Linked DNA regions of Homo sapiens. The protein of the gene in region 1 interacts with the protein of each later gene in a pairwise test. Each region holds a gene or a part of one and is shown in the gene's direction. Other genes may lie near its edges. The genes, in order: SPAG5, GOLGA8F, RPTOR and PKN1.

The links.
Region 2: the proteins of SPAG5 (region 1) and GOLGA8F interact in binary tests that used the Homo sapiens proteins (3 or more experiments, as listed by UniProt).
Region 3: the proteins of SPAG5 (region 1) and RPTOR interact in binary tests that used the Homo sapiens proteins (3 or more experiments, as listed by UniProt).
Region 4: the proteins of SPAG5 (region 1) and PKN1 interact in binary tests that used the Homo sapiens proteins (3 or more experiments, as listed by UniProt).

What each region holds. Positions count from the first base shown.
Region 1 is NC_000017.11:28,596,019-28,603,598, reverse strand, and holds the start of SPAG5 (sperm-associated antigen 5), read left to right. Parts: upstream 1-4,573; 5' UTR 4,574-4,652; coding exon 4,653-4,703; intron 4,704-4,963; coding exon 4,964-5,089; intron 5,090-7,580. UniProt on the Homo sapiens protein: Essential component of the mitotic spindle required for normal chromosome segregation and progression into anaphase. Required for chromosome alignment, normal timing of sister chromatid segregation, and maintenance of spindle pole architecture.
Region 2 is NC_000015.10:28,388,651-28,392,538, forward strand, and holds the end of GOLGA8F (golgin subfamily A member 8F), read left to right. Parts: coding exon 1-143; intron 144-228; coding exon 229-413; 3' UTR 414-3,371; downstream 3,372-3,888.
Region 3 is NC_000017.11:80,890,838-80,897,867, forward strand, and holds part of RPTOR (regulatory-associated protein of mTOR), read left to right. Parts: exon of another isoform or gene 1-882; coding exon 883-1,000; exon of another isoform or gene 1,001-1,334; intron 1,335-1,891; coding exon 1,892-2,032; intron 2,033-2,869; coding exon 2,870-3,028; intron 3,029-7,030. UniProt on the Homo sapiens protein: Component of the mechanistic target of rapamycin complex 1 (mTORC1), an evolutionarily conserved central nutrient sensor that stimulates anabolic reactions and macromolecule biosynthesis to promote cellular biomass generation and growth.
Region 4 is NC_000019.10:14,428,329-14,436,314, forward strand, and holds the start of PKN1 (serine/threonine-protein kinase N1), read left to right. Parts: upstream 1-4,977; 5' UTR 4,978-5,193; coding exon 5,194-5,214; intron 5,215-7,986. UniProt on the Homo sapiens protein: PKC-related serine/threonine-protein kinase involved in various processes such as regulation of the intermediate filaments of the actin cytoskeleton, cell migration, tumor cell invasion and transcription regulation.

The sequences.
Region 1 (7,580 bases):
AAACCAGAGACCTTTGTTCACTTGTTTATCTGCTGACCTTCCTTCCACTATTGTCCTATGACCCTGCCAAATCCCCCTCTGCGAGAAACACCCAAGAATGATCAATAAAAAATAAAATAAAATTAAATTAAAAAAAAAAAAAAGAGAGGAACCCACAAAAAAAAAAAAAAGAAAGTATATAAAATAAAATATTGAAGTCCTTTCCCATTAAAAAAAAAAAAAAAGAAAAAGCACGGACTCTTTCATCCAGTTCTGATGTGATTATCTCTGGAAGGCATTTTCTCCTCCTCTTCCCTCCACCTCCATTCAGAGTCACTGACTTATACCTTTTACATATTCACATGAAATTCACTTAATATATACACCTATATACTCACAAAAATTAAAAATTAAAATTAAAAAAATTCCTGGCCCGGCGCAGTGGCTCACGCCTGTAAATCCTAGCACTTTGGGAGGCCGAGGTGGGCGGATCACGAGGTCAGGAGATCAAGACCAGCCTGGCCAACATAGTGAAACCCTGTCTCTACTAAAAATACAAAAATTAGCCAGGTGTGGTGCACGTGCCTGTAGTCCCAGGGAGGTGGAGGTGGGAGAATCGCTTGAACACGGGAGGCGGAGGTTGCAGTGAGCCGAGACCACGCCATTGCACTCCAGCAGCCAGGGTGACAGTGAGAGTCCGTCTCAAAAAGAAAAAAAAAAAATTCCCTTAGGCCCAGTGCAGTGGCTTATGCCTGTAATCCCAGCACTTTGGGAGGCCAAGGTGGGTGGATCACTTGAGGCCAAGAGTTTGAGACCACCCTGGCCAACATGGTGAAACCCTGTCTCTACTAAAAATATAAAAATTAGCTGGGCATGGTGGTGTGTACCTGTAATCCCAGTACTCAGGAGGCTGAGGCGCAAGAATAGCTTGGGCCTGGGAGGCAGAGGTTGAAGCGAGCCGAGATTGTGCCACTGCACTCCAGCCTGGGTGACAGAGTGAGACTGTCTCAAAAAAAAAAAAATTTTTTTTTTTCATTTTTTTCAATATACAATCTGAAATGATCTTTTAAGTTTATATGCTCTGATTTTTTTTTTTAATCTAAAAGAAATCAGGACCAGGTGCAATGGCTCATGCCTATAATCCCTACACTTTGGGAGGCTGAGGAGGATTACTTGAGCCCAGGAGGTCGAGGCTACAGTGACCTATAATCAGCTTTGGGCAGTGGCAGTATCATAGCCAGTAAGGTTTATCCGAGGCACAATTATTACTGATTATTGCCAATTGAAACAGTGAGTTATGATCATGCCACTGCACTCCAGCTTGGGTGACAGAGACCTTGCTTCAAAAAAAGAAAGAGGTCAGGTGTGGTGGCCCACGCCTTTAATCCCAGCACTTCGGGAGGCTGAGGCAGGTGGATTACTTGAGGTCAGGAGTTTGAGATCAGCCTGGCCAACGTGGTAAAACCCTGTTTCTACTAAAGAAATATAAAAATTAGCCAGGTGTGGTGGCACGTGCCTTTAATCCTAGCCTGGGTGACAAAGCGAGGCAAGACTCCGTCTCAAAAAAAAGAAATCTGATAGACTTCACTTGTAATGGATATTTAATTCTATATTTCATGTTATCTTTTGTAAGAATTTAAGATTAGTCAACACCAATCCTATACTCCTCTAGAAAAGTATCTTTGTAGCTCTACTCATTATTTCTTATCTCTAACCTAAGTTACTTTATTACATATTAATCTGTTCATTTGTTCACTTGCTCATTGATGTAATAAATTAGTAATCTCAATTTATTGGTTACTTGTTTGATAGAGTCTTCAATGTAGAAATGTTGTCAAAGCTTTTTTAAAAAAATTTAAATAGGCCAGGTGCAGTGGCTCACGTCTGTAATCCTAGCACTTTCAGAGGCCGAGGCGGGCAGGCAGCTTGAGCTCAGGAGTTGGAGACCAGCTTGGGCAACATGGTGAAACCCCGTCTCTACCAAAAACACAAAAAGTTAGCTGGGCATGGTGGCATGCACCTATGGTCTCAGCTACTCAAGAGACTGAGGTGGGAGGATTGCTTAAGCCTGGGAGGCAGAGGTTTCAGTGAGCCAAGATCAGCCAAACCACTGTGCCTGGCCCACATAAGTAATTTTTAATTTGCTAGTATCCACATTCAAAAAGTAAAAAGAGGGGCCGGGTAGAGTGGCTCATGTCTGTAATCCCAGCACTTTGGGAGGCTGAGGCGGGTGGATCTCCTGAGCTCAGGAGTTCAAGACTAGCCTGGCTAACATGGTGAAACCTGTCTCTACTAAAAATACAAAAATTAGCCAGGCGTGGTGGCACATGCCTGTAATCCCAGCTCCTTGGGAGGCTGAGGCAGAAGGATCGCTTGAGCCTAGGAGGTGGAGGTTGCAGGGAGGTGAGATCGTGCCACTGCACTCCAGCCTGGGCAACAGCGCCAGACCATGTTTCAAAAAAAAAAAAAATTAGATTAAAAAAAAAAGTTTAAAAAGGCTGGGTGGGGTCGTTCATGACTGTACTCCCAACACTTTGGGAGGCTGAGATGGGAGGATCGCTTGAGCCTAGGAATTCAATACCAGCCTGGGCAATATGGCAAGAGACTGTCTTTATAAAAAATTAGCCAGGCGTGGTGGCACATGCCGGTAGTCCCAGCTACTCAGGAGGCTGAGGCAGGAGGATTGCTTGAACCTAGGAGTTCAAGGCTGCAGTGAGCCATGATTGCACCACTGCACTCCTGCCTGGGTGATAAAGCAAGACCCTGTCTCAAAAGAAAATTAATTTTAATGTATTTTATTTAACCCAATATTCCTAAAATATTTCAATATGTAAACAGTATTAAAAAAAAAAAATATATATATATATATTTTTTTTTTTTTTTGAGACAAGGTCTTGCTTTGTCGCCCAGGCTAGAGTGCAGTGGGATGATCATAGCTCACAGCAGCCTTGAACTAGGTTCAAGCGATCCTCCCAAGCTGGGATTATAGGTGTGTGCCCCCAACCCTGCCACCCCTGGCTTAACTTTTTTTTTTTTTTGAGACGGAGTCTAGCTCTGTCACCCAGGCTGGAGTGTAGTGGTGCCATCTCAGCTCACTGCAACCTCCGCCTCCCAGGTTCAAGAGATTCTTCCTGCCTCAGCCTCCCAAGTAGCTGGGATTACAGGCGTGTGCCACCACACCTGGCTAATTTTTGTATTTTTAGTAGAAACGGGGTTTCGCCGTGTTGGGCAGGCTGGTCTCGAACTCCTGACCTCAGGTGATCCGCCTGCCTCGGCCTCCCGAAGTGCGGGATTATAGGCGTGAGCCACCGTGCCCGGCCCAAATTTTTTTTTTGTAGACATAGGTCTCACTATATTGCCGAGGCAGGTCTCGAACTCCTGGGCTTAAAGGATCCTCCTGCCTCTGTCTCCTCCGTGCTGGGATTACAGGCATGAGCCACCGCACCTGGCGATATTTTGCATTCTTTTTTTCATACGACGTGTTTGAAATCCAGTTTGTACAGTGTTTTACATTTATAGCACATTCCCACTGGGACTAGTCACATCTGAAGTGCTCAAAAGCCACTATGGCTAGGGCTAACGTACTGGACAACACAATGCTAGAGGAGCCCGTCCCTGAGGACGCTGCAGTTTATAACATCATAGTTCCTCCTCTTTGGACTGCTGCTTTCCCCCTATGTATTAAGACTTGCAGAGTGTAAACAGGGCGCCGTGAGTGTGCAAAGCACACACACCTTCGCAAACGGCTCACTCTGAATACTGACCTTTCGGCTGTCCTACCTTCAACAGGTTTCCCGTGCATAGGAGATCCAAGACAGCAGAAGGCAGGAGCTGGCGGGACAGGGAGGAAGAGCGGCTCTGCCGTTTACTATCTGTGTGACGCTGAGCAAATTACACACGGTCTCTCTGACTCAGCTCCTTCCTGTCACAAATGGGGATATTTATAGTATTTCTCACTACGTAGGTCCTTATGCGCATTAAATGAGCTACTACACGGCATTCGGCATAGCGCCAGGCACACACTCAATGTTCAATACATGTAGGCGGTTAGCCCAGTAAACTGGTAGCCGGCCTGAGTAAGTCCCAGGAAAAGCCCAGAAACTCTGGAGACATTACAGCCCAGGTCGAGAACCACGGCCCGGGCCGTCCCGGACGCGGGCCCACCAAGCCTAGGGAAGCCGCTCGGCACCGCTTCGGCTTCTAGACTCCCTGGCCGGCTCTTTCCCGTCAAGGCTGCGGCTGGAGAGGACTGAGGGAGACCTAGGGAGAGGATTCCTCTTCTCCATCCACGGAGACAACTTGGATATGAACACCATGGATGTGAGGAGGTCCGCTGGAAGCAGGAGGGATGGACTCCTGGACTCTCCAGCTACCTGCGTGGTCCTCCCCGGTGTGAGGACAGAAGACCGGTCCTGGGCCGGGCCCGCATCCAGCCCTACCGCCGGTGTCTGAGGTGAGGGCTCCGTCAGCGGAAAACGCTCGACAACGGAGGGGCAGGCAGGGCCGGGGGCGTGGTCAACGCGGGCCCCGCCCCCCGGGCTCTACCCCCGAGCGTACGCGCGCGCCTGAAGCAGCCAACCAGGAAGCGCAGAGCAGGTTCAAACACAGACGGCGGGTGAACATGGCGTCCTCGACTTGGTCTGAGACGTGATAGGCCTGCCTTCTGGTTGAAGATGTGGCGAGTGAAAAAACTGAGCCTCAGCCTGTCGCCTTCGCCCCAGACGGTAAGCGGGAGATCTCTGGCGGAGAGAACTGGGCCGGGCTGCTGTCGCGGGGGCACCGGCCGTGTCTACTGTCCTGGAAAGTTGGGTCGAGCCCGGGGTTGGGGGCTTGTGGAGTCTTTGTTCGCCTTGCTGCTCCTGCGCGACTAGGGTGCGAGCGTACTCTTCTAATCGCATTTTGGGCTTCTTAGGGAGGGAGGAGGGGCGGGCTGGCAGAACCCAGGCTTCCTCACACTCGCCCTCTTTCTTGGTTTCTTTCTCAGGGAAAACCATCTATGAGAACTCCTCTCCGTGAACTTACCCTGCAGCCCGGTGCCCTCACCAACTCTGGAAAAAGATCCCCCGCTTGCTCCTCGCTGACCCCATCACTGTGCAAGCTGGGGCTGCAGGTGAGATTCGCCTGGACAGCTTCTCGACTGGGCTGTTTGCCCAGGGTGAGAGCTCAGGGGAACAGAGGGCCAGGGCTACAATAATTAATAACGATAATGAAGTCTTCTACGTCGGTGACATCCATTTACAGCTATTCAGGCCAACAGAGAGGTGCCCTAGGGTGGTTAAAGGAAATCCAGTGAGAACTTGAATCTCTGTTTAGCTGTTAGTTTTTATTACCTCCTCCTCCTCCCTTCGACCTTTATCAAACTATTGAGAAATCCTACCACCCTGATTAGTGCTCTTCCTCCAACATGGGGTCACTTACGGAAAGGTCAGTCACCTGCAAGATTGAGGCAATATCCATTTACTCTAGGAGGTAGTTAGAACTCTCCTGGGATCAAGTTACACCACTGGAAGGTAGGGTACTTGAATCACCTTAGTTTAAACTAGCTCCTTGCAGAATTGCCCTCACTGATTTGTACTTTTGTTAAACGTTTTGAGAGACGTAGCCATGTAGAAACTGCATTTCAGTTGCTGTCAAAACTTGTCAAGGAAGCAGCTTGACTCCTGTATAAGATTCCTCCAAGAAAGGCTTTAGGACTAACTGCCTGGAAAAATTGTCTTCCTGAAGAAATTGCTATCCTTTTCTTTCTGATAATGAGAACTATGTAGTTTACCATATTTTCCCTCTTGCTCTGCCTTCTAGAAAGCTCAAGGCCAAACTGGATCATCACATACAGCTACTGTTATAGCTGTATAGGAAGTTTTGCTTCCTCTTTTTTGACCATGACTTTGTTATTTCATTAATCGTATCTATTCATTTTCATGCATATGAATTATTTTTGGAAGGAGATGGGATATCAATAAAATAGGTATGAGGAGGAAAGAAGAGTGTATAGACAGATGACATCCTGAGTAACAGAAGTATGATGATAGCATAGCAGTCTTTCTTGAAAGAGTTGCAAAATACCTACTGTCCAATAGAACTTTCTGGGATGAGGGAAATATTTGATAATCTGTGCTGTCCAGCATGGTAACTACTAGTCACATGGTTATTGAGCACTTAAAACGTGGCTGAGGTGACTGAAGAATTGAATTTTTTTGTTTTTGAGACGGAGTCTTGCTCTGTCACCCAGGCTGGAGTGCAGTGGCGTGATCTTGGCTCACTGCAATCTCCGCCTCCAGGGCTCAAGCGATTCTCCTGCCTCAGGCTCCTGAGTAACTGGGATTACAGGTGCACACCACCACGCCTGGCTAATTTTTTGTATTTTTAGTAGAGACAGGGTTTCACAATGTTGGCCAGGCTGGTCTCAAACTCCTGACCTCAAGTGGTCCGCCCGCCTCGGCCTCCCAAAGTGCTGGGATTACAGGTGTGAGCCACTGTGCCTGGCCTGAATAATTGAATATTTAATTTAATTTAATTTAATTAATTTTTTTTTGAGATGGAGTTTCGCTCTTGTTGCCCAGGTTGGAGTCCAATGGCGCGATCTCGGCTCACCGCAACCTCTGCCTCCCGGGTTCAAGCGATTCTTCTGTCTCAGCCTCCGGCATGTGCCACCACACCCAGCTAATTTTTGTATTTTCAGTAAAGACGGGTTTCTCCATGTTGGTCAGGCTGGTCTCGAACTCCTGACCTCAGGTGATCTGCCCGCCTCCGCCTTCCAAAGTGCTGGGATTATAGGCGTGAGCCACTGTGCCCGGCCTGAATTTTTAATTTTAATTTCAATAGCTACATGTGGCTAGTGGCTATCATATTAGACAGTACAGCTTAAGATGAAAAATAAATAAGTACTAGGTGGAAATTAGCTCTATAGAGCTTATAGAATTTATTATGATTATTAATTAATTAATTAATTTTGAGATGCAGTTTTGCTCTTGTTCCCTAGGCTGGAGTGCAATGGCACGATCTTGGCTCGTTGCAACCTCTGCCTCCTGGGTTCAAGCGATCCTCCTGCCTCAGCCTCCCTAGTAGCTGGGATTATAGGCACGTGCCACCATGCCTGGCTAATTTTTGTATTTTTAATAGAGACGGGGTTTCGCCATATTGGCCAGGCTTGTCTCGAATTCCTGACCTCAGGTGATCCGCCCACCTCAGCCTCCCAAAGTGCTGGGATTACAGGTGTGAGCTATGGCGCCCAGCCTGAACTTATAGAATTTAACCATAATTATTTAATCACAATAGCAGAATACTAGATTGAAATCGAATTCTCCTTCCCTCTTAACTGCTGGGCTTACTACCTCCAGATGCAGTCAGCTACACAATGAAAAGGGTTTTTCCCCAATAAAATAGCAATTATTTTTGTTTTGTAAAAATTTTTTTTTTTTTGAGAGTCTCACTCTGTTGCCCAGGCTGGAGTGCAGTGGCACAATCTTGGCTCACTGCAACCTCTGCCTCCCGGATTCAAGCAATTTTCCTGCCTCACCCTCCCAAGTAGCTGGGATTACGGTGTGTGCCACCACGCCTGGCAGATTTTTTTTTTGAGACGGAGTCTTGCTCTGTCACCCAGG
Region 2 (3,888 bases), on another chromosome or scaffold:
TGGAGCTGCAGGAGATGGTGTTGCAGCTGGTGGCGACTACAAGGGACACAGCAAATTCTTGGTGACTGCCCAGAACCCTGCTCATGAGCCCAGTCCAGGAGCCCCAGCCCCCCAGGAGCTTGGGGCTGCCCACAAGCATGGTGGTGAGTAGAGCCCTCAGGCGGGGTGGGCAGGCAGGAGCAGGGGGGCTCTCACTGAGCTCAGATCCCCGCCTCCCTCTCTCCAAAGATCTTTGTGAGGTGAGCCTCACTGACAGCGTGGAGCCTGTGCAAGGAGAGGCCAGGGAGGGTTCTCCCCACGACAACCCTACTGCACAGCCGATCGTGCAGGACCACCAGGAGCACCCAGGCTTGGGCAGCAACTGCTGTGTGCCATTCTTTTGCTGGGCTTGGCTGCCAAGAAGAAGGAGATAAACATCACCATCGTCAAAGAGCTGCTGAAGAAATTTTTAAAAAAGAAACAAAGTTATGGGGTTAATCTCCTACACAATTCATTTACTTCATTTGAATGTTATAGCCACTTATGATTATTTGTGTTTCTAATTTATAGTTTAAGTTCATTTGTAAATAGTTAAAAGAGAGTGGGTCTCTGTGGCTTTCACTGATGTTCACTCTGGCATACTTTCGCAATTTTCTTTTTCAATTTCATAATTGTAGGTCATTAGCATGCATATTGAGTTTGCCCTTACGTGGTGGGAGTTCAAACACACAAAGACCCACTATTTGCACAAAACTATTCTTGCTGGTTTGGAATAGGCTGCCATGTGTTTTTAATGTTATTGCAGCATGTATATTCATTACAGAATTCAGATAAAATGTGCCTATGTTCTGCTGTTGTTTGATCTAATCTTAATCACAGTGAGCTCTTCATTAGCACAATATGTGGTTTGCCCCAAGTGTGCACTATTTAATACTTTGTAATATGCCACCAAGAGTACTGACATTTAGAGTTGTTTAAAGGCCGAGAACTGGAAACAGCCTTTCCCTCATTTTCTGTGTATTGGTGATGGGAGTAATAACATTTTGGGGGAGCTTTTTAAATTTCACAGAAGAGGAAAGTTGCCTGCTCTGGCAGGTATGTGCAAGATAGAGTGTGTTTCATTTGTTCTGTTGCCAAGAATTAGTGCTGTACTATTGTAGTTCCTTTAGGATTTGTATGTGCTCTGGGCTCATGAAGATATTGCATCATGAGCTTCAGCAGTTGTACTCTTTTTTGATGACCTAAAAAGGGCTTATTTCTGAGGAATGAAAGGTTCCCATCATTGACTACGGATGTGGAAAACCTTTCCTAGCTTAGAGCATTTGTATCTATATTTTAAAGTCAGAGTTCATGTTACCTGTTTTAATCACATGACTGCATGTCCCAGTACACAAAAGGGCACTGGTTGGCATTCTTCTTAATGTATTTAGTAAAGATCATAAGAAATCCTTTAAGAGTTCAAATGTCCCTGGAACAGGCATACAAGCTCTAGTCAAGAATGAATTAGAGTGAAGGAAAGCTGTGTGACACCTGGCATTCCTCTGTTCATGGAGCTTCTTTGAGGCTTGAAGATTGATTTTACCATCTAGACCACTCTGCCTATTCTTCAACCACCTTGGTTACTTTGACATAGGAATTGACTTCTTTTCCTTGAATGGAAAACACTTTGAAATAATAATAAACATTGTTATAAACTAATATATGTGAGAGTGCTTAGTTGAAACAAAAAGGAGTTTTAGTAGACAGTATTATACTATCTTTGAAAATCAAGGAGAAGTTTATGCAACTTAAAATGTGTACAAACTGCAGTGCAATCTACTGTTGGTGAATGTCAGTGTATTATCAGGAAACATGTCTATACAATCACAGAGTTATATTTCCTCACAAACTTCTTTGTGAAGAGTGAAATGTGTTTCTGTACCTCTGGGTTTCACTTACGGGCATATTTTGTGCAGTATTTATGTGATTGTGCCTATGCATGATGAATGAATGAATTTCAGTTGTACATTGCCTAAATCATAACTTGATGATGCTTGGGAAAGACTCAACAGTTAAAACTTCATGAAGTTCTAATGTCTGTGTTCCAAAACACATCACATTATTAGGATGTAGGGAGATATGTATGTGTGCTCCCTGGGGTGGGGATTTCTAGTTACTAGACCATCTCCATTTTTAGCATTTGGCATCCTCATGATACTTTTATAAATACGACATTAACAGGAGAGCAGCAGTACGATTTTGCCGATGGAATAACAGATTTGCCGGCAATCACTGAAAGAGTGCAAACATCGGGTCCTTGTGACTTCAACGGACTCTTCCAAATTGTATGAATGTATCAATGTATTAGATAAACCCAGTTTCAGAATGATAAAGAAAAAATGTTAGACCAAATAATGCGGCTAGTTAACAGTGGTACGATTTCTCGCCCGTGGCTTTAAAATGCACTTAAAGTCCTGTCCTTGCCTTTTATTTTCTGAACTTGATGTTTTTGCATTCTTTGAGTTCAGTTTAAAGACAACTACGAGCATCTGTAACCAATCTGACAATAATGTGTTCATCAGGTGCCTGTGGATTAAATCACATACTGGCATATTTAAGCTGAATGTCAATCTGGAAAATAAATTGACTGTATTAACGGAAATACCACTCTTTGTGTAGATATTTGTCGTATATTTAAGAAAAAGCTAAAAAGAATGGAAATCGCATGACTATAACTTAAGTCTTTCTTCAAAGTGCATGCAGTCTTTTGCGATACCTCATTCAGCCAAGTATTGGTATTCTTCCTCATTCGGTATAAGGCAGCTTTCAATTTGCTTAGAGGGCAACATTGGAAGGTTAGAGTTCATCAGAAACAGAATTCTAAAATGTGAGTTCAATTCAATAAATTTGAATTTCTGTAGGAAGAATCAAATCACCGATTTAAAGATTGCAATATATAATAATCATTTTTAAAGTATTGGATTAAATCTGATAGGTTTTCCAGAAATGAACAAAAATCAGCTCTAAAACCAAAGCTGATTTTTAGAAAATTTGAAAATGTAAATCAGCCCTATCCATACTATAGTTTCTCTAAAACTTTATCTGAAACAGTCATTTTAAAATAACTATTAAACAATGTAACTGCTATCTTAATGTTCTGAAATAAGTTAAAACATTTTAAAATATGAATACTGTAAAGGAAATAAACGGTGGGAAGGAAAAGTAGAGAAAGAAATGCCAATTCCAGTCCAAAGCTTTATTTGCCAAGTTTTCTTAGAATGAATTTTACCAATTTATGAATTCTTGTAAGCGGAATGTAAAACGGAAATACTGAAAGACTTTTGCCTAAAGTGGCATTATTGACTGCTGGTGTGATGCTACTGTAATGTAATAAATTATTAAGTTGTTGCAAAGTGCTGTTTTTGCCTTAAAATTTTATTCTGTGTGTCTTCAAAAATATAGTATTAAAGGTATTGATACTGTGCAAATGCTGAGCATGCTTGGCATGAGATAATGTTTCATTTTTACAAAATTGTAATATAACTATGCAAGGGTTTATTAAAAGAACACAAAATAAAAAAGTTATGGGATTAACAAAAGTTATGGGGTGAAAAAGTTATGGGATAAAAAATGTAAAAAAGTTGTGGCAAAAAAATCTTGTGACCAAAAAGTAGAAGAAAGTTTTATGAAAAGTTACCAAAAAAAGTTATGAAAAAGAAGTTATGGGATTTAAAAAAAAAGGCATGGGATAAAAATAAAAATTAAAATTAAAAGCAGGCCCCTGTCAGCAAAGCCTGGAGAAGTGGGGCTGGGGTCTCCACCACCACACTGTCCCTATCTCCCCTTCCCAGTCACCCCTTTACAATTAGGGTAGCAGGACAAGACCTCTGTCTAACGAGGAAAGACAAACAGACCCTTTGCCACCTTGAC
Region 3 (7,030 bases), about 52 Mb from region 1:
GGGTGGCCACGAGAAGACCCTGGTCCCTGGTGGGCGCCCATCCAGAGCCTGCTCATCCAGCCGCTGTGGAGACAGGGGCGTCACGCGACTAGCAAGGGGTCCTCTCACAGCGCTTGGCTTTCTGCTAAGAATCCGTATTTTTTCTTTTCAGAAAAAAAAAAGGCAGAAAAAGTTGTCGTAGGGAAAAAAACGTTCTTTCCGCTTTTTAAACCTACATCCCCCTTCTGTTCCCCAGTGACTTCTAGGATCTCCAGCTGTTCCTGTCACAGCACTGAACTGTCCTAAAAGAGAGGCAAATTGTGTCTGTTCCCTTGGACCAAGGCATTTGGTCCTAAAGATGATGTTTTAGTTCTACAACTTTTCCCGTTCCCTCTTAGGGACTAGAAACATCTACCAATGAAAGTTTCACATGTGTTGAAAAGAGCAGGCTTCGGCTTGTCCGCTGCACTCGGCCCTGGGGCGCTCAGATTCAGAAAGGCCGCCAGCCATCGGGTGTGATCTAGAGCGGCGTTTTCAGCCAGGGTCCCAGTGGTCACCGTAAGCGAGAGGCTGTGAGGCCTCCTACCTTTCCCTCTCTGGAGTCCTGTGACTCACCGTGTCCTTACGAGACCCCCGATGCGTCGTGCGCCTCTAGCAGTGGGGAGGATTCTGGCAGGCATTCTGGGCTTCCCCCGTGAGCCAGTGGCCTGCCGTCTCCCAGCACTCTGCTATTCCAAGGCCTCTGCTCTGACGGTTCGAAAAGGGATGGTCCCTGTTTCTGATGCCAATTGCACGGTTTTGTCTTAACCTTTCTTTTTTCTGTTGGTGACTCAAGTCTCACTGCTGCTCCACAATCATTTTCCAGCCCCAGTGACTGTTATTGTCCCTTCTCCCTCTCGGCAGGAGCTGGTGGTGGCTCTGAGTCATCTTGTGGTTCAGTATGAAAGCAATTTCTGCACCGTGGCCCTGCAGTTCATAGAAGAGGAAAAGAACTACGCCTTGCCTTCTCCAGCAACCACAGGTATGGCGTCTTCTCCTGTGAACCCGCAGAGCACCTCGCCTGGCGGTTCTAGTGCAGGCCGCGGCCCAGTCTTGCTCACCCTCGCAGAGTCTAAGCGCAGGTTTCTCAGATACCTGCCGCAAGGGGTCCCTGTTTTTCTCATCTTTTTAGGCACCTGCCAGATTTAAAAGGGCAGGAAAGAGGGCCACACTGACCCTCTTACATTTTTCCTTTCTTTTTACCCTTTTTGGAAATTAAACTCACAGAGACCTTGAAGTATGACAAAACTTCTGCAGTAGGAGCTTGCGGAAAAGCGCAGGGGCCGTCTTCCTGCGATGAGTAATTTCATCACACTGCTCTTGGCTCCGTGGCTCGGTGAGTCATGTCAGGCGTGCTTTCTCACACGTGTCGTTTTGACTGGAGAGTACAGTTCCTATCTCATCGCTGCCGGCAGCCCCTCCCGCTTCCACACAGCCGTCTCTGCCGTGCAGGGGCTTGTCATCAGCAGTGAGGCCTCACTGCTTCTAGGAAGCCCAGGAGGGGAGAAGGGTGAGCCAGACTGAGTGTGGACGGTCATTGCTCTGCTGCGGCTTCCCGGGGAGCACGGCTCACGGCCCACGTCACCATGCACCTCGTGTGCACTCGGACAGGCCGCAGCCACCAGCCTCTCCCCTGTTGTCTTTTGTAATTTAATATGCACAGAGCCACAAGCGGTTGTTGTTTGTCCAGTGCTATCCCGCAGAGCCTCCGCTCACGTCTGAGTCTCCCTGAGCTGTGCAGCCCCTGCTCTGACATTTGTTGCAGCACAGGTAGCAGCTGCCGTCACCGAGTGTCCCAGCTGCTGAGTGTCAGAAGACACGCTGGCCTCCACCTGGAAGCCCATTGTAATTTGTCTTTCTCCTTCTTTCCCAGAGGGAGGGAGTTTGACCCCAGTGCGAGACAGCCCGTGCACCCCCAGACTTCGTTCTGTGAGCTCCTATGGAAACATCCGTGCTGTCGCCACAGCCAGGAGCCTCAACAAATCTTTGCAGAACCTGAGTTTGACAGAGGAATGTAAGATCCTGGAAATCGGGTTATTGGATTGGGAGAGATTGGGGTTGTTTTTTCTGAAACACTGTATCTGAGTAAGCACCACTCTGCCCCTGCCCCTTCGTCTAAGTGCGTGCCCTGAAGTCCCATCTGCCAACATGGTGATGAGTCACCCTTCCAGACGTGAGCATGGCAAGGAGGCGTAGGCCAGCCCCCAGAATAGCCAGCGGGCCCGTTACCAATGCGGCAGGGAGCTCAAGCGCAGCCGCAGTTGAGGCGGTGGCTCCTTGGAGGGCTGTGCCCTGCCCCCGTCTCCCAGTAACCTGTGGTCTGCGGGTGGGGAGCTTGGCTCCCAGGGAGATCAGTGAGTGCCTGTGCCTGTGTGTGCGCCGGGGCGTGTGTGCCAGGGTGTGTGCGCCAGGGTGCGTGTGTACCAGGGTGTGTGTGCGCCGGGTGTGTGTGTGCGCCAGGTGTGTGCGCGCGCCAGGTGTGTGTGCGCCAGGGTGTGTGTGTGCTGGGTGTGTGTGCACAAGGGTGTGTGCATGCCAGGGTGTGTGTGTGTGTGTACAAGGGTGTGTGTGTGCCAGGGTGTGTGTACTGGGTGTGTATACGCGCCAGGTTGTGTCTGTACGCGCCAGGGTGTGTGCGCCAGGGTGTGTGTGTATGAGGGTGTGTGTATGTCGGGTGTGTGTACATGCCAGGGTGTGTGCGCACCAGGGTGTGTGTGTACCAGGGTGTGTTTGTGCCTGGGTGTGCTGAGCTTTATTTAGAAGAAAATATGTATCTCAGTCATGCCATTAACTGTAAGACCAAAAGGAGGGTCCCGGGAGCACCCCACTGACCCCGTTGCGTCTCGGGCAGCTGGTGGCGCGGTGGCGTTCTCCCCCGGAAACCTCAGCACCAGCAGCAGCGCCAGCAGCACCCTGGGCAGCCCCGAGAATGAGGAGCATATCCTGTCCTTCGAGACCATCGACAAGATGCGCCGCGCCAGCTCCTACTCCTCCCTCAACTCCCTCATCGGTGAGTCCGCCTGCCCCTTTCTGCTTCCGAGGGGCCCCGAGGGTCTCCTCCCCACACAGAGCAGCACAGACCTGTGTCTGCATCAGGTCAGTGGGTGTCAAAACTGTCTGTTCAAAAGAAAGAATAAAGGTCAACAGGACTGCGAGGCAGGGAGAACGTTTTGCTGGGGCAAGCGGGAAAGTTGACATCACTGTTGTGTTGGGGTAGTATTTTACAGGCTGCTCCGGAGCCATCGGAGCTGGCCAGTTTGGCTGGGTGGGAAGGCTGCCAGAACCTTCCATCTTTGTTCCATAGACGGGTGAGAGTTCTTCATGGTGCTGGACACCCTGGTGATGCAGAACGGTGGTTCTCAGCCGGGGGTGGTTTTGCCCCCCACGAGCAACTGGGGTACAGTAGGGGTGCTCCTTGTCCCAGTGGGTGAGGCCAGGAAGCTGCTCACATCCCCTGGTGCCCAGGACAGCCCCCACACAGTGTCCGCAGTGAGAGGCGGAGGGCCCTGCGGTCGGGCTGGGGGCTGTCATCCCCGCCCTGCTCACCTGCGGAATCTCCACACAACTTTCCCTCCATCCCAGCAGCTTGACGCAGCACTGCCTGGAAATGGAAATCTGACGGAAGGGTCAGATTCTTCTCTTGTTCTGCCATGAATGGTGTGTGCCTGGGTCCTACCACCAGGATTGCTGTTGTAAAACAGGAGAAGCAGGAATTCACCGTGTTTTCTTATTGTGTAGCTATGTTCATCTTCACACTGCTGGTAACAGATTTAGGGCTTAACCAAATGAGCCTCATCTCCTCTTGTTCTGACTATCCAGAGTGGCTTACCGGCTTCATTTGAATTTTTTTCATGTTAAGGAGCATTTTAGCCATGTAAAAATTTACAGAGACTTATATAAGAGCGCTGCGTGTGTGTGTGTGTGTGTTGTGTTCCCAGCTTAAGGAATTACAGAGGTCGAGCCCCAGACCCTACCCCGGTCCCATTCCCTCTGGTGACATTACACTTTCCCTCCCTGGCCATGAGCCCTGGCACACACGTGGTGCCCACTTAGAGGCCTTTACCTCCTATTGGCGCCGTCGCACGATGCGTGGCCCGCAAAGCCCGTTTCTTTGGCTCTGACTTCAATATGTATCTTTGATGGTCATCTAGGTTTTGTTCCTTCACCTCCGCGATCTGCCGTGACTCCATTATCCATTCTCCTGTCTGGGGACAGTGAGGCCGGTTCTAGTTTCTTCTTGCCTTTTGTTCCTTTTCTTAATAAGCAAACTCAGAATTCAGCCCCTGCCACCATGGAGCCCCACATCCAACACACCCTCACTCGCTGCACCCAGCTCTGCTGGGCCCCAGCCTACCCGGCCCCCAGCCTGGGCATCGGTGGGGAAGCTCTTCTCCGGCATATGGTGGCCGCTCCCCTCTCATTCAGAGCCCCCATCTGGCAGCACCTTCCCAGAAGCCTCCCCAGCCCCACGCCCCACCTGGAATCAGGCTTCCCCAGCTGCCCTCTGACCCTGCTCCCTTTTCCTGCTTTATTTTTCTCCTGAGGACTGTGGACTGCAGACGTGCTGTACGTGTAACTTGTTCATTGGCCCGGCCCATCTCTCTCCCCTGGAGCTTGAGAGCCGCACGTGCAGGAACCCAGCCTTGTTAACCACTGTCTCCTCCCACCCTGTCCACACCCAGTGCCTGGTACGCAGTAGGTGCTCAATACACATAAACGGGCACGTGTGTGGTGCGTGTTCTTCAGCGTGGATACACGTGAGTGCCTCTCGCCACCTTGCCTCAGAGTGAAGCTGCTGCGTGAACGGTGCCTGCACCTTCAGCTTTTGTAGATGTCGCCCCAGGCCTTCCACGGGATCCTCTGTTCTAAAGCGCAGGCGCCCCCATCTCGCCACTCTCTACCACGCCGGTCTTGGCCAGCCTTTGTCTGTCTGATAGACACACCTGGTGTCTCCTTGTGGCATGAATTTGCATCTGCCTTGATTGCAGTGAGGTTACAGCCTTGCAGCCTTACAGACTCGCCTTGTGTCGTTTATCTTTCTCTGAGTAGTTTGTAATCAGCATTCATCACAGTTCTGGGTGCTGATTCCTGGCTGAATATATCCATCGAAAATGCATCTAATCTATGACTTTTTATGATGCCTTTGGTGCCACACAAGCTTAATCTTTTAGTTTCTCTTTTTCTTTATAACTTGGGCCTTTTGTGTCTTGTTTTTCCTATTCTCAATGTCCTAAACATATTCTCCTACATTTTCTTCCAAGATTTAAAATTTTCCTTTTTTGTGTTCATGTCTTAAGTATATCCTGAACCACATTTTGTCTCTGTGGTGAGGTGGGGATCCAGGTTGTATTTTTTCTTTATGCCACCCCAGACCCTTCATCAGACAGCCCGTCCTCCCGCCAGTGCTTCTCAGCGTCTCCCTGGCCATCAGTCCTTAGGGTCTGAGTGGGGGCTCCATTCTTAGCAGCACCCATCCCATCCACGGCCGCGCCGACACCCCACACAGCCGCCCCGACACCCCACGCGGCCTCGCTGACACCCCACGGCCGCAGCAACACCCCACACGGCCTCGCCAACACCCCACGGCCATGCCGACACCCCACACGGCCGCACCGACACATCCCACGGCCGCACCGACACACCCCACGGCCGCACCGACACCCCGCATAGCCACCCCGGCACCCCACGGCCGCGCCGACACCCCACACAGCCGCGCCGACACCCCACACGGCCGCGCCGTCACACCACAGCTGCGGGGGCAGCACCTTTGAGCCCGCTCCTCAGTTCGTTTCTCAGAACTGTCTTGGCCGCTCTTAGCCCTTTGCTCTGCTGTATACATTTCACAGTCAGGCTTTCTGTGTCGACAGCAGCCTCACTGGGGTGTTGTTTGAATGGCGCTGAATTGGTGGATTTCCCTGGGATGACTGACTTCCTTGCATCATGAGTCTTCCTGCTCCTGAACAGGGTGTATCTTTCCATTTACTTAAGTCTTCTTTATGTCTTCAAGACAGTCTAACTTTCTGCATAAAGGTCACAGGCATGACGTTACCTTTCAGTTTTTGTAATTTTAAGTAATATCTTTTTTAAAACCTGTTGCTGGCAAAAAAAGAAAGAATGCCAGTGGGCTGGGCACGGTCCCTCACGCCTGTAATCCCAGCACTTTGGGAGGCGGAGGCCGAGACGGGCGGATCACGAGGTCAGGAGATCAAGACCATCCCGGCCAACATGGTGAAACCCTGTCTCTACTATAAAAAAATTAGCCAGGTGTGGTGGTGCGCACCTGTAGTCCCAGCTACTGGAGGAGAATCACTTGAACCGGGGAGGCGGAGGTTGCAGTGAGCGGAGATCACACCACTGCACTCCAGCCTGGCAACAGAGCAAGACTCCATCTCAAAAAAAAAAAAAAGAATGGCAGTGGACATCTGTGTTTCTCTCTTGAGAGTAAACGAAACCTTTCTAACCTTTTACCTTTGATACGACATTTGCTGTAGATTTTTTGAGTGGGTGCTCTATATCAGTTTATAGAAATTCCCTTCCCTTTGGTTCACTCTTTTTATGAGTGCAAATTCCCATTCTATTCTAGTTAGTTAAGAATTTTCCTGATAAATGGAATTAATTTCTTTGAATGTATTTTCTGCATCTCAGAATGACCCTGTGCATGGCTGTTTGTTAGGGTAGGGAATTACATGATTGAATTTCTTGTGAAATATCCTTGCATTTCTGGGGGCACCCAGCGTGGTAATGTCCCCTGACATCGCTGCCTTACGCTCACCAGCTATTTCTTTGGGCGCTCCCCATTGGCATTCACGAGTGGGTTGGGCTGTGACTTTTCTTGTCCTGACCTGGCTGGTTTAGACATTGAGTCTGTACCTGCCTAGTAAAACTGGCTCCTCCGGGCATGGTGACAGGTGCCTGTAATCCCAGCTACTTGGGAGGCTGAGGCAGGAGAGTTGCTTGAATTCGGGCAGCAGAGGTTGCAGTGAGCCAAGATCACGCCACTGCACTCCAGCCT
Region 4 (7,986 bases), on another chromosome or scaffold:
TTGTTTTTTGAGACGGAGTCTTGCTCTTGTTGCCCAGGCTGGAGTGCAATGGTGCAATCTTGGCTTGCTGCAACCTCCACCTCCCGGATTCAAGCGATTCTCCTGCCTTAGCCTCCTGAGTAGCTGGGACTACAGGCACTCACCACCACACCCAGCTAATTTTTTTTGTATTTTTAGTACAGATGGGGTTTCACCATGTTGGCCAGGCTGGTCTCAAACTCCTGATCTCAGGTGATCCACCCACCTCGGCCTCCCAAAGTGCTGGGATTACAGGCTTGAGCCACCACACCTGGCCACGTCTCCCCTTTTAGCAAACAAAGTGTGGCTGGACGTGGTGGCTCATAACTGTAATCCCAGCAGTTTGGGAGGCCGAGGCGGGAGGATCACTTGAGGCCAGGAGTTCAAGACCATCCTGGGCAACACAGTGAGACTTCATCTCTGCAAAAAAAAAAAAAAAAAAAAAAAAAAAAGAATTAGCTGGGCATGGTAGTGCATGCCTGCAGTCCCAGCTACTCAAGGGGCTGAGGTGGGAGGATGACTTGAACCTGGGAGGTTGAGGCTGCGCTGCAGTGAGCTGTGATCTCACCCACTGCACTCTAGCCTGGGTGACAGAATGAGACTTTGTCTCCAAAAAAAAAAAAAAGGCCTGAACTGCAACTTTATCTCCAGTGCCACCAAATTCCCCAGTGGGTCTCTGTAAATATTCACTGAGTAAATGAATGCCTGAAGGGTGGAGCGAGAATTTGGCTGGTTTCCCCAGCTCCATCTGGGGAGGCAGCCTGGGACCTCACAGGTTGGGGAGGGAGGGCCCATCCCTGTGCAAGGTGGTTCCAGACAACCCAATCCTTCGGCCCCCATGAAACCTCACTCTGCCTTGTCCTCCTCATCTGTAGAATGGGTGGGCTGGAGAATTAGAGGGAGCTACTTCGTTTCTCAGGGAAAGGGCCATAGACATCCTGGCTTGATGATTGGGGTAAGGGACTTCTCAGCTTACTCACCTGCAAAACTGGAGCAAAAGAACTAGTTTGGGCCAAGCTTGATGGCTCATGCCTGTAATCCCAGCATTTCAGGAGGCCAATGCAGAAGAATTGCTTGAGCCCAGGAGTTCAAGACCAGATTGGGCAATATTACGAGATCCAGTATCTACACACACACAAAAAAATTTTTTGAAAAAACTAGCCAGACATGGTGGTGCACACCTGTGGTCCCAGCTACCTGGGAGGCTGAGGCAGGAGGATCGTTTAAACCTGCAAGGTGGAAGCTGCAGTGAGCTGCGATGGCGCCACTGCACCCCAGCCTGAGTGACAGAGTGAGACCCTGTCTCTAAATAAATAAATATCAGGCTGGGCGCGGTGGCTCACACCTGTAATCCCAGCACTCTGGGAGGCCAAGGTGGGCAGATCACCTGAGGTCAGGAGTTCGAGACCAGCCTGCCCAATGTAGAGAAACCCCATGTCTGCTAAAAATACAAAATTAGCCGGGTGTGGTGGTACATGCCTGTAATTCCAGCTACTCAGGAGGCTAAGGCTGGGAATTGCTTGAATCAGGGAGGCAGAGGTTGCGTTCAGTTGAGATCGTGCCATCACACTTCAGCCTGGGCAACGAGAGCGAAATTCTGTCTAAACAAACAAACAAACAAATAAATAAATAAATATGAAAGAACTAGCTTGCAGAGTTTTTTTTTGTTTTTTTTTTTTTTTTTTTTTTGAGAGGGAGTCTCGCTCTGTCCCCCAGGCTGGAGTCTCGCTCTGTCCCCCAGGCTGGAGTGCAGTGGCGTGATCTCAGCTCACTGCAACCTCTGCCTCCCAGGTTTACGCCATTCTCCTGCCTCAGCCTCCCGAGTAGCTGGGACTACAGGCGCCCGCCACCACGCCCGGCTAATTTTTTGTATTTTTAGTAGAGATGGGGTTTCATCGTGTTAGACAGGATGGTCTCGATCTCCTGACCTCGTGATCTGCTCGTCTGGGCCTCCCAAAGTGCTGGGGTGACAGGCGTGAGCCACCATGCCTGGCCATGAGTTCTTTTCTTTTCTCTTTTCTTTTTCTCCCTTCCCCTCCCTCCCTTCCTTCCTCTCTCTCTCTCTCTCTCTCTCTCTCTCTCTTTCTTTCTTTCTGACAGTCTTGCTCTATCACCCAGGGGGGTGTGCAGGGGTGCGATCTTGGCTCACTGCAACCTCCGCCTCCCAGGTTCAAACCATTCTCCTGCCTCAGTCTCTCAAGTAGCTGAATATACAGATGCCCGCCAGCACACCTGGCTAATTTTTTAATTTTTAGTAGAGATGGGGTTTCACCATGTTGGCCAGGCTGGTCTCGAATTCCTGGCCTCAAGTGATTCACCCCCCTTGACCTCCTAAATTGCTGGGATTACAGGTGGGAGCCACTGCGCCCAGCCACAGAGTTCTTTCTTTTATTCAATCAACAAGCATTTGAGAAACAGTTAGAAGGCTCATGTGGCTGGAAGGAGTGAGCAAGGGGGAGAGATGGGAGGAAGTAAGAACTGATGGTGCAGAGCTTCGTGGGCTGTGGGGAGGACCTGAGTTTTTTCCCTGAGTGAGCTGGGAGCCATGGAGGGTTCTAGACAGAGGAGGGGCATACCCCATCTCATGTGTTCACTGCTCCCTTGGGCTGTTGTGGGAACAGACTGTGGGGGCGAGGGCAAAACCAGGAGACCAGGAGAGAGGTGACTACTGGTTAAGGTGAGTGATGGTAGGGACTGGATGCGACAAAGTGGAAAGGTGAAATGTGGGTGAATTCTGGGCTTGTGTGTGTGTTGTTGTTGTTTTCTTTCTCTTTTTTTTTTTTTTTTTGAGAGGGAGTCTCGCTCTGTCGCCCAGGCTGGAGTGCAGTGGCGCGATCTCGGCACACTGCAAGCTCCGCCTCCTGGGTTCATGCCATTCTCCTGCCTCAGCCTCCCTAGTAGCTGGGACTACAGGCGCCCGCCGCTTTCACCATGTTAGCCAGGATGGTCTCAATCTCCTGACCTCGTGATCCGCCTGCCTCTGCTTCCCAAAGTGCTGGGATTACAGGCGTGAGCCACCACACCTGGCCCCCTCTTTTTTCTTTTTTTAGATGGAATCTTGCTCTGTCGCTCAGGCTGGAGTGCAATGGCACGATCTCGGCTCACTGCAATCTCCGCCTCTTGGGTTCAAGCTATTCTCCTGCCTCAGCCACCCGAGTAGCTGGGATTACAGGCATGCGCCACCACGTTCAGCTAATTTTATATTTTTTAGCAGAGATGGGTTTCACCATATTGGCTAGGCTGGTCTCGAACTCCTGACCTCCAGTGATCCATCCACCACCCACCTTGGCTTCCTAAAGGGCTGGGATTACAGGGGTGAGCCACTGCACCCAGCCGTTTTTTTTTTTCTTTCTTTTTTTAGACAGGGTCTCGCTCTGTCACCCAGGCTGGAGTGCAGGGGCATCATGATTTCTCCCCACAGTGATGCATTCTCGGCCTCTTGAGCTCAAGCGATCCTCCCGCCTCAGCCTCCTGGTAGCTGGGACTACAGGCGTGCGCCACCATGCCCGGCTGGATGGGTTCTGGATCAGCATAATTCTCCTCCTTCTCTCTTTCTGTTGTTAGTATCTCCCAAAGAGTTGCTCAGAGGAAAAAATAAGAGAGAAAACATCGCGCCCTGGTTTCTGGGACGACTGAAACCACGCAGAGCCACGGGTAACCAAGGTACCCGCAGCCCACGGCGCTTCCTCGGGTCCCAAAGGGCGCCAATGTGCAGGCACCGCCGCCAGGGAGCGCTCCCTGCCGGAGCCCCGGAGACCAAGGTTTGGCTCCCTCGCCTGGTTTCCGAAGGAGTGAGGGTCCGACGGCGGCCACGAACAAAGCTGCACGCTCTGCAGACCCCGGAGATCCCCTAGAAATTCCGCAGAGGCCTCCACTCTCCGCTTGGGCACGAGTCTGCATTTATGGAGCGCCATCTGCATGCAGCAGCCCCGAAAAAGAAGGCGATGCCCATTTTATAGCGGGGAAAACTGAGACTCAGAGGCCACAGGGGTCCCCAGGATGAACAGCAAGTTGGGATTCAAACCTCTTTTAATAACAATAACGATAATAGAGGCTGGGCGCGGTGGCTCAGGCCTGTGTAATCTCAGCACTTTAGGAGACCGAGGCGGGCGGATCACCTGAGATCAGGAGTTCGAGGCCAGCCTGGCCAATATGATGAAACCCCGTCTCTACTAAAAATACAAAAATTAGCCGGGTATGGTGGTGGGCACCTGTAATCCCAGCTACTCAGGAGGCTGAGGCAGAAGAATCACTTGAATCCGGGAGGCGGAGGTTGCAGTGAGCCGAGATCGCGCCACTGCACTCCAGCATGGGCAACAGAGCGAAACTCCGTCCAAAAATAGCAAAACAACAAACAAACAATTACGATAACATTAAAAGTGACAGCAGCTAACACTTATGGAGCGTCTAGTGTGTTCTCAGCTCTTGGCCTGCACTGTCTTATTGAATTTTACCAACACCGAGGAGGTGAGCGCATCATTCCCATTTCACAGATGAGGTGCCTGGAAGGGTTTGTCTCCCTCAAGGCGTAAAGCGCTAGGATTTGAATGCAGATCCGCCCAGAGCTTGTCTCCAGGTAACGGGGAAACTTCCATGCCCTTGAATAGGGGACCACAGATGCAGGCGTCCCGAGCTTGCAAATGCACCGGGGTAGGGTGGGGTGGGGGGTTATTCTGTTTGTTTTTTTCAGGGGTCCCGGGAGGCCCAAAGGCCTCCGCCGCTCTCGGCTTGAACGCGTGGAACCGTTCTCCTCGGGTTCCCGCGCGCTCCAATGGGGGACCCCTCGGCAGCGTGCGGTCGTCTCGGGACCCGGAAAGAGGAAAGGTGGGGAGCCGATGGGGATGCTCCGGGCTCGGGAGACCGAGGGGGCGGACGGGCGGGACCCCGCAGCCCCGGGGGCCTCTGGGAACCCGTCCCCCCTCGGCCCCGCCCCCTCCCCGGGCGCCGACCTCCGGGGTCACGTGACCAGGCCCGGCGGCCGCTGGGGCCGGAGGGCGCGGCGCGGGGACGCGGCGGCCTGGCCAGGCGAGGCGGGAGCCGAGCAGGCCGGAGCGGGCCGCGCGCCGGGGAGGGTCGCGCCGCGCCCGCCCCCTCCCCGCCACGCCCGGGGCGCACGCGCGCTCCTCTGGCCGCCCCTCCCTCCGCGCGGGGACCCCTGGCGGGCGGCAGGAGGACATGGCCAGCGACGCCGTGCAGGTAGGCGCACCTGCGTCTGGAGTCCCGGGGCGACCGGACGGCGCCGGCGGACCCCGCCCGCGCGCTGCCGGGGGAGCCCCCCCAGCCCCCGGAACGGGACTCGGGTGACGATGGCAAGGGCGGGGGCCTCCGGAGCGCCCGGCGCCCCCTCCCTGGGCCGGGACTGTGGAGCCAGCGAGGCCCCCTTCTCGGCAGGTGGCGATGTGGACTGGGCTGGTTTGGGGGCGATCCCGGAGGCAACCCCTGCTACACCCTCAAACTCGGCCTCTCCTGGAGAACTAGAAGGGGCGCGGCGGAGGCTCTACTTCGGGTGTCTGTGGCTGGCTGGGCGTCCCAGTGCCTCTCGTCCGCCCCCAAACTCATCCCCCTCCCCAGGGTTGGGTACCCGGCAGGTGCCGCTCCACCTGGGGCACGTGCCTGGCGCAGTGCCCTGGGAGGGGAGGAGGCTGCTGGGCCCGGCCCGTGCCCTTCCCCCGCATAACAAAGCTCCAGCCACCCCCGCCTCTAGACAGCTTTATGATGTTCCAGACGCCACCCAGATTGGCACCTGTTGGCGGAAGTACCCGAGTCACTGCATTAGGTCGGGGGAATGGGGACCCCCACTCCCACCCTTGGGCTGTCAGGTGGAACCTTCTCCTGGGTGGGGAGTGTCTCAGTCAACAGGCCAGGGATGCTCCCATATATAGAATCCTACTTTTTTGCATGGTGGCTGGGCATGGCTGGGTCACCCCCACCCTGCTAACACACACACGTGACTGGCACCAGCCTCCCGCCCAGCCAGATTCCCCTTGTGCCACCTGGTGGGGATCACTGACCTGGACTCATCTTCCCCGTCTGTGACAAGCACGGCCAGGGTGACTGCCAACCTTCTTTGGTTCAAGTGACCCAAATCTGAGAAATGTCTGTGCCTCAGTGTCCCCATTAGCACCTCACCATCCAGTTCATTGTCCTGTGGTTGTTGTGTAACTGGGTTCTCGTCTCCTTCTGCACCTGCCCCCGGCCCCTTTGTGTCTCCCCGGTAACCCCCGGTCCCTCCCGCCTTCCCAGTCCTGCTGATGGCCTGCCGGCCTTGCCGAGGAGCTGGGCGTATCTGGTGTTGCCGATCACACAAGGTCAGACCTCAAGGCCGGGATGGGCCGGGGTCCCTGCCTCTACCCCCGGCCCAGGGAGGGCTGTGTAGGAATCCCCGGGTGCATGCATGCGCTTGGCGCATCCCACACATGACCCAGACAGGCTGTGATTCCTGCAACGAGGCTGGACCCACGCCCTGGTCCCCCCTTCCCATCTCCTCCCCAGTCTCTTCCCCGCTCCTGGTCATCCCTCTCTCATGGTTGCTTGGGCCTGCTGCCCTGTCCCTCTGTCTGTCCCAACGTGTGCCTGTCTGTTCTGTGTCCTGCAAACGGATGTCCTGTCCAGATTCCGGAAACGCCCAAGGCATTGAAATCTCCGGATGTGGGAGTCTAGGTCCCTGGCTGCTCTGGCAAGATGGGGATTATGGGAGGCAGGTCCTCTGGGTCTGAGGTCTCCGCTCCATGGTGGGCAGCGGAGGAGCAGGGGTTCTCCATAGGACAGGCCAGGCCAGGGCCCTGAGTCCTGGGTTTGCCTTGCTGGCCCTCAGGTGACCCCTGTGCCTTGGGTAGAAGTGAGTCACTCAGGGGAGGAGAACCCAGGAGCCCAGCCTCCCTCCCTCTGTGCATTACAGACCTCAGCTGCTGGAGGTGGGGCTGAGGGAGGCCACCTCTCCTCTCTGCCTGGACTTCCCCAGTTGAGCTGGCCCCGCTCTTGGCTGTGTCCTCCCTCTGCCTGCTGGGGATGGGGTGGGGCCTTCTGAGCGAGGGTGGTATTTGGTGAGCCTGGGCTTAAATTCCAGCGCTGACACTTCCTCGCTGTGTGTCCTGGGCCCAGTGCCTTCGCCTCTCTGAGCCTCGGTTCTGACCTAGGAAAAATGGGACTAAGAGGGTGTTCATGGGAGAGAGAGAGACCGAGACCTTGCCAGCACTTGGCAGGCAGGGCTGCTGTGAAGTCGTTACTGGTAAGCGTCCTGGTCAGCAGCTCAGGGTGTGAATCTGTGTCCTTATTGATTGATTTACTGATTTATATTTATTTATTTTAGAGGAGAGAGTCTTGCTCTGTCACCCAGGCTGGAGTACAGTGGTGCGATCCTATGTCACCGCAGCCTCGATTTCCAATTTCCGGGGCTCAAGTGATCTTCCTGCCTCAGCCTCCCAAGTAGCTGGGACAAAAGGCACAGACCAACATGCCTGGCTAATTTCCTTTTACTTTTGTAGAGACAGGGTCTCGCTCTGTTACCCAGGCTGGAATGCAGTGACGAGATTCTTGTTCACTGCAGCCTCAAACACCTGATCTACAGGACTACAGGCATGCACCACCACACCTGGCTAATTTTTTTTTCTTTATTTTTTTAAATTGAGACTGGGGTCTCACTCTGTCACCCAGGCTGGAGTGCAGCGGCATGATCTCTGCCTCCTAGACTCAAGCCGTTCTCCCACCCCAGCCTCCTGAGTAGCTGGGACTACAGGTGCACACCACCACGCCTGGCTAATTTTTGTATTTTTAGTAGAGTCAGGGTTTCGCCATGTTGCCCAGGCTGGTCTTGAAATCTTGAGCTCAAAGTAACCTGCCCGCCTAGGCCTCCCAAAGTGCTGGGATTACAGGTGTGAGCCACTGCCCCCAGCCTTTCTTTTTTTCTTTTCCTTTTTTTTTTGTGATGGAGTCTCGCTCTGTCGCCTAGGCTAGAGTGCAGTGGCTTGA